Linked DNA regions of Homo sapiens. The protein of the gene in region 1 purifies or fractionates together with the protein of each later gene. This does not show direct contact. Each region holds a gene or a part of one and is shown on either strand. Other genes may lie near its edges.

The links.
Region 2: the proteins of NUDCD3 (region 1) and DET1 purify together in Homo sapiens (affinity purification with a luminescence readout; one large-scale study listed by IntAct). This does not show direct contact.

What each region holds. Positions count from the first base shown.
Region 1 is NC_000007.14:44,403,582-44,407,232, reverse strand, and holds part of NUDCD3 (nudC domain-containing protein 3), read left to right. Parts: intron 1-2,649; coding exon 2,650-2,793; intron 2,794-3,651.
Region 2 is NC_000015.10:88,519,113-88,522,763, forward strand, and holds part of DET1 (DET1 homolog), read right to left. Parts: intron 1-3,651. UniProt on the Homo sapiens protein: Component of the E3 ubiquitin ligase DCX DET1-COP1 complex, which is required for ubiquitination and subsequent degradation of target proteins. The complex is involved in JUN ubiquitination and degradation.

The DNA.
Region 1 (3,651 bases):
GGACCGTATTGATGGGTTTGTCTACTGTGTGTCTGAAACCTGCTCGTCCCACCACCACCGACAGCTGAGTGGATTGACCAGTCAGCTTTGCTTTATAGGACATAGGGTCTTGGCATCCTAATGCTTGAGTGAGTAGGACTTCACTTGACACACAGGCATCCACACTAGGTCCTCAGACTGCTGGTCAGTGTCTTTGGAGCAAGGTCCTCCATTCTTCTGTAGCAAACAGAGGGATTCCTGTCCCTTTCAGTGGGGCGTCCAGGGCCACAGCAGTTCCCACATGTGCCCCTGGCCTTGCTCCTGCTCTGCATACCTGCCGACTCCCAACTGGAGCCTATGTAGCTGTGGCTTCTGGATGTCTCCTACCCTATAGGATTTGTCTCCTGTGCCCCTCCTCCTTTTGTCTTCTGCAGATTTGTTGACATCTCATCTGTTCCTGGCCTCCCTCTTCCCCCATTTTCACTGTCTGGGGTTTTTCTCTTCATGCCTATTATGCCTGCAGTTCACAAGAGGTCAGAGAGATGGCTGTCTGTTCCCAGTGTGACATCTTCACCTGGGACCTCTGGAAGCATTTCTTGTCTGGTTTTCTCCCTTGATGATTTGGTTCATTCCCCTGGGTAGGCAGTGTGAGAAGCTTCCCCAAATTTGGAAATTATTATGTTATATAGAGCTGGGTGGGAGAATTATATTTGTTAAGTGAGCTTGTTCTTGTGAAGGCAGGCTGAGGAGCCTTGGGCCCTCTGTGTCGTGTTTCCATTGCACACAAGTTCATGGTTAGACATGATTTGGCCCAACATGTGTCTGGATCATTTCAGGAGTGAGTGGATCTGTTGTTCCATTTGCTCACGTTCCTCATGGTGTTAGAAGGTAGGGAGTGAAGCTCAGTTGCCTATTGTTCAATAGGACTAGCCAAGTAAATACCCTTTTCCGTGGTAAATTCCCCTATGAAAGGTCATGCAAGTGGAACTGCGATCTCATGAGAGGATGCTTCCTTGGAGTCTGCATGTGAACCTGGCAGAGCCGCCTGTGGTTAGCAGAATATCTTCGCTGTGTCCCCCAGTGGGCAGCCTTCTGCCACCTTCTCCCCTCACTGCATGGCTCAGGAACTATCTTTCATTTAGTAACTATCTGATGGGCTGGATGTGGTGGCTCACATGTGTCATCCCAGCACTTTGGGAGGCTGAGGCAGTAGGATCACTTGGGGCCAAGAGTTCGAGACCAGCCTGGGCAACAGCAAGACCCCTGTCTCTACAAAAAATAAAAATAAAATTAGCCAGGCATGGTGGCACGTACCTGTAGTCCCAGTTACTCGGGAGGCTGAGGTGGAGGGATTGCTTCAGCCCAGGAGTTTGATGCAGCAGTGAGCTGGGATCACGCCACTGCACTCCAGCCTGGGCAATGCAGTGAGGCCGTGTCTCTTAAAGAAAAAGAAGAAAAACTGACAGCGGTGACTCCTGCACATCATTTCTCCCATTTCCATTTTTTATTTACGAATATTTAAACTACAGTTAGGTTATGGTATTGTATTTCATTGGAAATACTAAACTCCAGTTTGGAAAATCTATCAGTTTGGGTTGTCTTTTTTTCCAATCATTTTATAAGCGTTTAATGAGCCATCTACCAAATGACATGGAGAGTAGCTTCCAAATTATTTTTATTCCACATACCTATTAGAAAAAAGTTTTAAGTACTTGATCCCAGTGTCTTCTTAATGCATACATTATACAGATACAAAATGTAAATGGAAGTTCTGTTTTATTTCCTCTTCTAATTACTGACCTGTGAACCTCCTGGGGTATGCATACCCTGCTTTGGAGACTGCTGGCTGGAATACATGATATGAAGTAAAAGGAACCCTACTCCCACAGCTGCCAGTCCAGTTCTGGAGACGGACAAGTGGTGGGGCAGGGATAGGTGTTCCTAGGGCGGTGGGGAAGGCCATGGGGCCAGTCTCTGCCTAGGACAGGCTCAGAGGGAGGAGGGTGAGCTGAGGCTTTTAGAGGCTTGGTTTTGTAAAGAACCAAGACAAAATGCAAAACCATGTGCGAGTGTTGGTGGTATATTGGTGAGCATAGCTGCCTTCCAAAACCAAAGGAGTTGGTCTCATACTCTTGGATGAAGACCAGGCTATAGTCAACCAGGCAGTGCAGTGGCTCATGGAAGGAAGAGGTGGTGCTTGTCTCTTGTACAGCAGTCCTGGGGTGAGCAATTCAGGGTGTGCAGCCCCCTCAGCTTTCTTGGTTGCTGTGGTCCAGGGCTGGGCTCCTGCGTCTCCCAGGTAGCCACAAGGGGAGGCAAGGAAGAAATACCACTTGTCTCCTCTGCTCACTTTTTGCTGTGACAATTGGTCTCCGTTAACTGGAGAAGGGAGAAGAAGATTGGGTCACAGCAGCTTCCACCACAGCATTTTACGTTACCAGTTATGCTGAGAAAGATTTTCTGGTGGATTTACTAAATGAGCTGACATCTTCAGGTTGCTCTAGGTATAAATTAGGCTGGTATGGTTTTCTTCACTGAGATGCCTGGTGAGCCTGATGACAGCGCTGTAGTGTGCAGTCAGGTACCTTGGAAACCATCACCACTCCCACCGTACAGCACACCAGTGGTCACCCTGATAGGAGAGATGATTTTCTTCTGCTGTGTCCCCAGGTCTCAGTGGCCCTTAGCAGCAGCTCCATTCGTGTGGCCATGCTGGAGGAAAATGGGGAGCGCGTCCTCATGGAAGGGAAGCTCACCCACAAGATCAACACTGAGAGTTCTCTCTGGAGTCTCGAGCCCGGGAAGTGCGTTTTGGTAAGTTTGGGCACCTGTGTGTAGGGCTCCCAGGTGGACTTCAAACCTGCAGTGATGCCCCTTTTGACCAACAAGCCTATTTACACTTAAGCAGTGAGGTTGTTAATTTCAGCTGCTGGGGCAGATGGGTTTTCCTGAGCATTTTCCATACTGCTCAGAGATCGTCTCTGTGGGCACTTGAGCTTTGGCCCTTTGAGGTCTTGGTCATTCCCAAGAGCTCCACTGTTCTTACATCTAAGGCAAAAACAAGTAAATTGAAAATGAAAAGCTAGGTTGAATTTTTACAGATGCTACTCTGGAGGGTACAGAGTTAATAAATTCAGAGAATCAGGCTCATTGACCAACTGGCTGTCCTTAGCCAGCTGCTGGTTAGGCATAGCTAAGAGTTCAGGACAGTGAGATTAAGGTGTGACTCCAAATGAACAGCTCACATGTTACCAGTTAGCAGACTCGCTCACAAATTGGGCTGCACGCCTGGGCCAGATCTGTTGGTGGCTCAGCTCCTTCTCCCCTGTGAAAGCTTTGAACCTTGTCAGTGGTGGCTCTGTGCTGGTGCCCAAGTGGAGGTCACCTACAGATAAATTGAGGCACAACATGTTCTGAACTAACTTGTTTCCTTTTTTTCTCCTACTGGGGTGTTTACAGGGCATGGTAAAAGGAATAAAGGTGAAAAGAAAAATATAATGTCTGGACAAAAGTCTTTAGAATTTTATACAGATATATTCTTCATATGTGCAAAGTATGCAATAAAGGTATCTGTTTTGGTTTCTATAAGACATGCTTGGCAGGCTTCTGCCTGGGCTTCCCTGGCCAGTGCTGACTGGCAGGGACAAACTATCTCTCAGGCTCACAGTGACT
Region 2 (3,651 bases), on another chromosome or scaffold:
GGGGGCTGGCTCACAGCTTTGTGATGACCACAAATCAAAGCATCTGTGATAATCTACAAGTTGAAACAGTTCCTCTTCCTCCACAGCACCTACCACCTCCACTCTCCATGCTCCCCACTGATTAAAAGCAGTCACTCTCTTCGATGTCTTCACACTTTAGTTCCTGCCCCAGTGTCACTCTGTCCAGCTATACCTCTCTTAGTTCTCGGTAATTTCAAAATCCTCAGAAAGGTTCTTTACAGCACCATAGCCTCCTGCTAGTTCCTTGACCTCCTCTCAACCTCAACTGCTTATTCCACAGTCACACCCTCAACCTCACCATTACCAACGACTGCAAACCCTCTCTAGTCACAGGGTAGACCGTCACGCTCTCCAACCATCTTCTCTCCCATCTTTCCAGCTCACTCCCTCTATTCATCCCAACTTCAGCAATCCTTTAACCCCCACAGGACCTATAATCCACTGATTCTACCAACTTCTTCCCATCCTACACTCATCATATCCTCTCTTCCTTCCTTCCACATAGATGAAATTACTAAATCACTCCGTTGCACACATCCTCAACAATCTTAAATTCTCTTGCTTTGTGGTACTTGCTTAGAAAAACTACAGCCTCCAGTTAAGCTCAACTCTTCCTATTCCGTGCCTGTACTACTTGGTTTTCTCCATGGCTGTAGAAAAAACATACAATGCTCACTTTAAACTTATGGCCATGAACTTTATGTGGGCCCTTAATGCTGCAGGGCACTCATGCTGCATTTCCATAGTCCTTCCAGACTCCCATGCTCTTTCATGACTATTTCATCTCCCCTCCTCCATGCTCACTCTTAGCCAATGGCATCGCTTACTTTGTTACTAACAAATGGAAGTTAGCAGAAGATAACTTTTTTAAAGCCCCCATCAGCACATCTACCCAACATTTGTACATATATAACTTTCTGCGCTCCCATGCAAGGCAAATCCCTCTGCCAGTGCACTAGCACCCAACCCCTCTCATACACTTAAGCAGTTCTTCCACTTTCCTAAACTGTTTCCCCTTCTCTACAGGATCAGTCCCATCTGTATGCAAACATGCCATTTTTTCCCTCTCATCTAAAAAATAACAAAAACAAAATCTAACACTACCTACCCCTCCAGCTAATGCACCACTTTTCAGCTCCCATTGTAATAAAACTCCTCAAAACTCTTTTCCATACTGTCCAACTTTTCTCCTCCCATTCTTTCTTAAACCCACCCTAAAGAGGCTTTCACCCCTACTATCTCACTCAAACTACTCTTGTCAAGGTCACCAATGACCTGCACATTGCTAACTCCAATAAGTTAATTTTCAGTCCCTATTGTACTTGACTCGTCAGGTGGCTGTGACACAGCTAACACTCCTTTGAGAAACTATGAGATATCTCTACTTACAGAACTTTTGATCTTCTCCCCTAAACCTGCTCTACCCACAGGTTTACAGTTTAATGGCAACTCTCTCTTGCAAGCTGTTCAATCCAGAAACATTAGAATTATCTTTGACTTTGTTCTTTCATGGCCCATAGACCATCCTCCATTAATCAATTGGGCTCTAACCTGCAAAATACATTGAAAATATAATTACTTACTATTCCCAATGCTACCACTCTGATCCAAGCCACCACTGTTAAACAACAAATAATCAATCACAGAGGACTTGGTATGTGCCAGACACTCTTCTAGGTGCTTAGGATACATCAGTTGACAGTAAAGAACTTAAATCCTAGTGGCAGGAAACAGAATGCCATAGCTATTACTTACTGGATCACTGCAATAGTCTCTTAACTGGTATCCCTGCTGCCACCCTACCTGCCTACATTCTACTCTTAACAGAACAGCCAGAGTGACTCTGTTAAAACATAAGTGAGACTACATCACTCCTCTGCTCAAACATGACACAATCTACCTCATCTATAGTTAAAGCCAAAGCCATAGAATGGCCTTATGTATCTGCCTACCTCCCCACCCCAAATCAGGTCTCTGACCCTATTTCCAAGTACTCTGCCCCTCGCTCACTCCAGTCCAGCCACCCTGGCCTTCTTGTTGTCCCTCAAATGCATCAGATCTACCTCAGGGCCTTTAGATATGCTATTCCTTTTGCTGGGTATATTCTTCTTCCTGCTATCCACATGGCTTGCTCCCTGACTTCCTTCAAAAGCTTTCTCAACCACCACCTCCTCAGTGAAGCCTATGCTGACAACTCTACTAGGAAAACTGGCAATCTCTTCTTAATATACTCAAACCTACCAGTATTCTAACAATTTTGTTTTTTCCTTGGACACACTTTTCTTGGACTCCTCCACTTTCGTGCTTCCAAATGGTCTGACAGGTGGACAGTCATTCTGCAAATTCCCTTTATCATTATCCTCAAGACTCTCTTTGCCTCTCTCCAGTGTCAGACTATTTCCTACATACCATTCTTTTGTGGTCTATTGAAGTACATCTCCATAGGCTTCCTTAGAAAAGGTACATGAGAGGTAATCTTTTCAGACTTCACAGGTTTGAAAATGTCTCCATTCCACCCTATTATTTGGATATAGAATTCTAAATTGCAAATCACCCTTTTCATAGAATTCTGAGGGCATGATTTTAATGACTTCAAGCTTTCAGTATTATTGATGTCTGATGTCATTATGATGACTTATTGTTTTTACATGTGAAATGTATGTTCTTTCTCAAAGTTTTCACAATGTTCTCTTTATCACCAATGTTCCAAAATTTCATGATGATATGCCTCTGTGTGTGGGTCTTTTTCATTGACTGTACTGGATACTAGATGAATCCAGTGGTGCGCTGATAAAGGTTTAATTTTTCTTGGGGGAAAAAAGCCATGATTTGTAGTGCTTCCTGCTTTCTGTGGTGTAAATCTTCCTGCCAAGGTACCAATGTGACATTACTCAATGTGCAGTTGCCAAGAGAAGAGCTGTAGCACCTTATTATATAGTATTTACACCATATAGATAAAATAGATGCAAAAACCACAAGAGCCTAAGTAACAGTAAAATCGGAAATAATTTGGAAATAAGTTTTAATAACGACTTTGTTTAACAATCAGCTTGCAAAAATTCCTGAAAGTTTAACAGTCAGATCTCATGAGCCAGGACAAGCCAGCTCCAGAACTGGATGGTCCTGCCAATCTAAAAATTCATGTTCTTCAGTCCTGGGAATCTATCCCATTATTTCTCCACTTTGTGTTCTCCACTGCTTCTTCAGGAATTAGACAGATATTTGGCCTCCTAGGCAGGTACTCTATTTTTTTTTTAAATGTTTCTCTTCTAGGTCCCTTCTCTTATCTATTTACTCTACTTTTTTGGAGAGTTCCTCCACTACATCTAACACATTTTAAATTTCCAAAAGTTTCTCATTGTTCTAGGAATGTTCCTGGTTTTTTTTTTTTTTTGAGTTGGAGTCTCGTTCTGTACCCAGGCTGCAGTGCAGTGGCGCAAATTCGGCTCACTGCAAGCTCCGCCTCCTGGGTTCACGCCATTCTCCTGTCTCAGCCTCCCGAGTAGCTGGGACTACAGGCGCCCGCCATCACACACGGCTAATTTTTTTTGTATTTTTTTTTATTTAGAAGAGACGGGGTTTCACCATGGTAGCCAGGATGGTCTCCATCTCCTGACCTCATGATCCGCC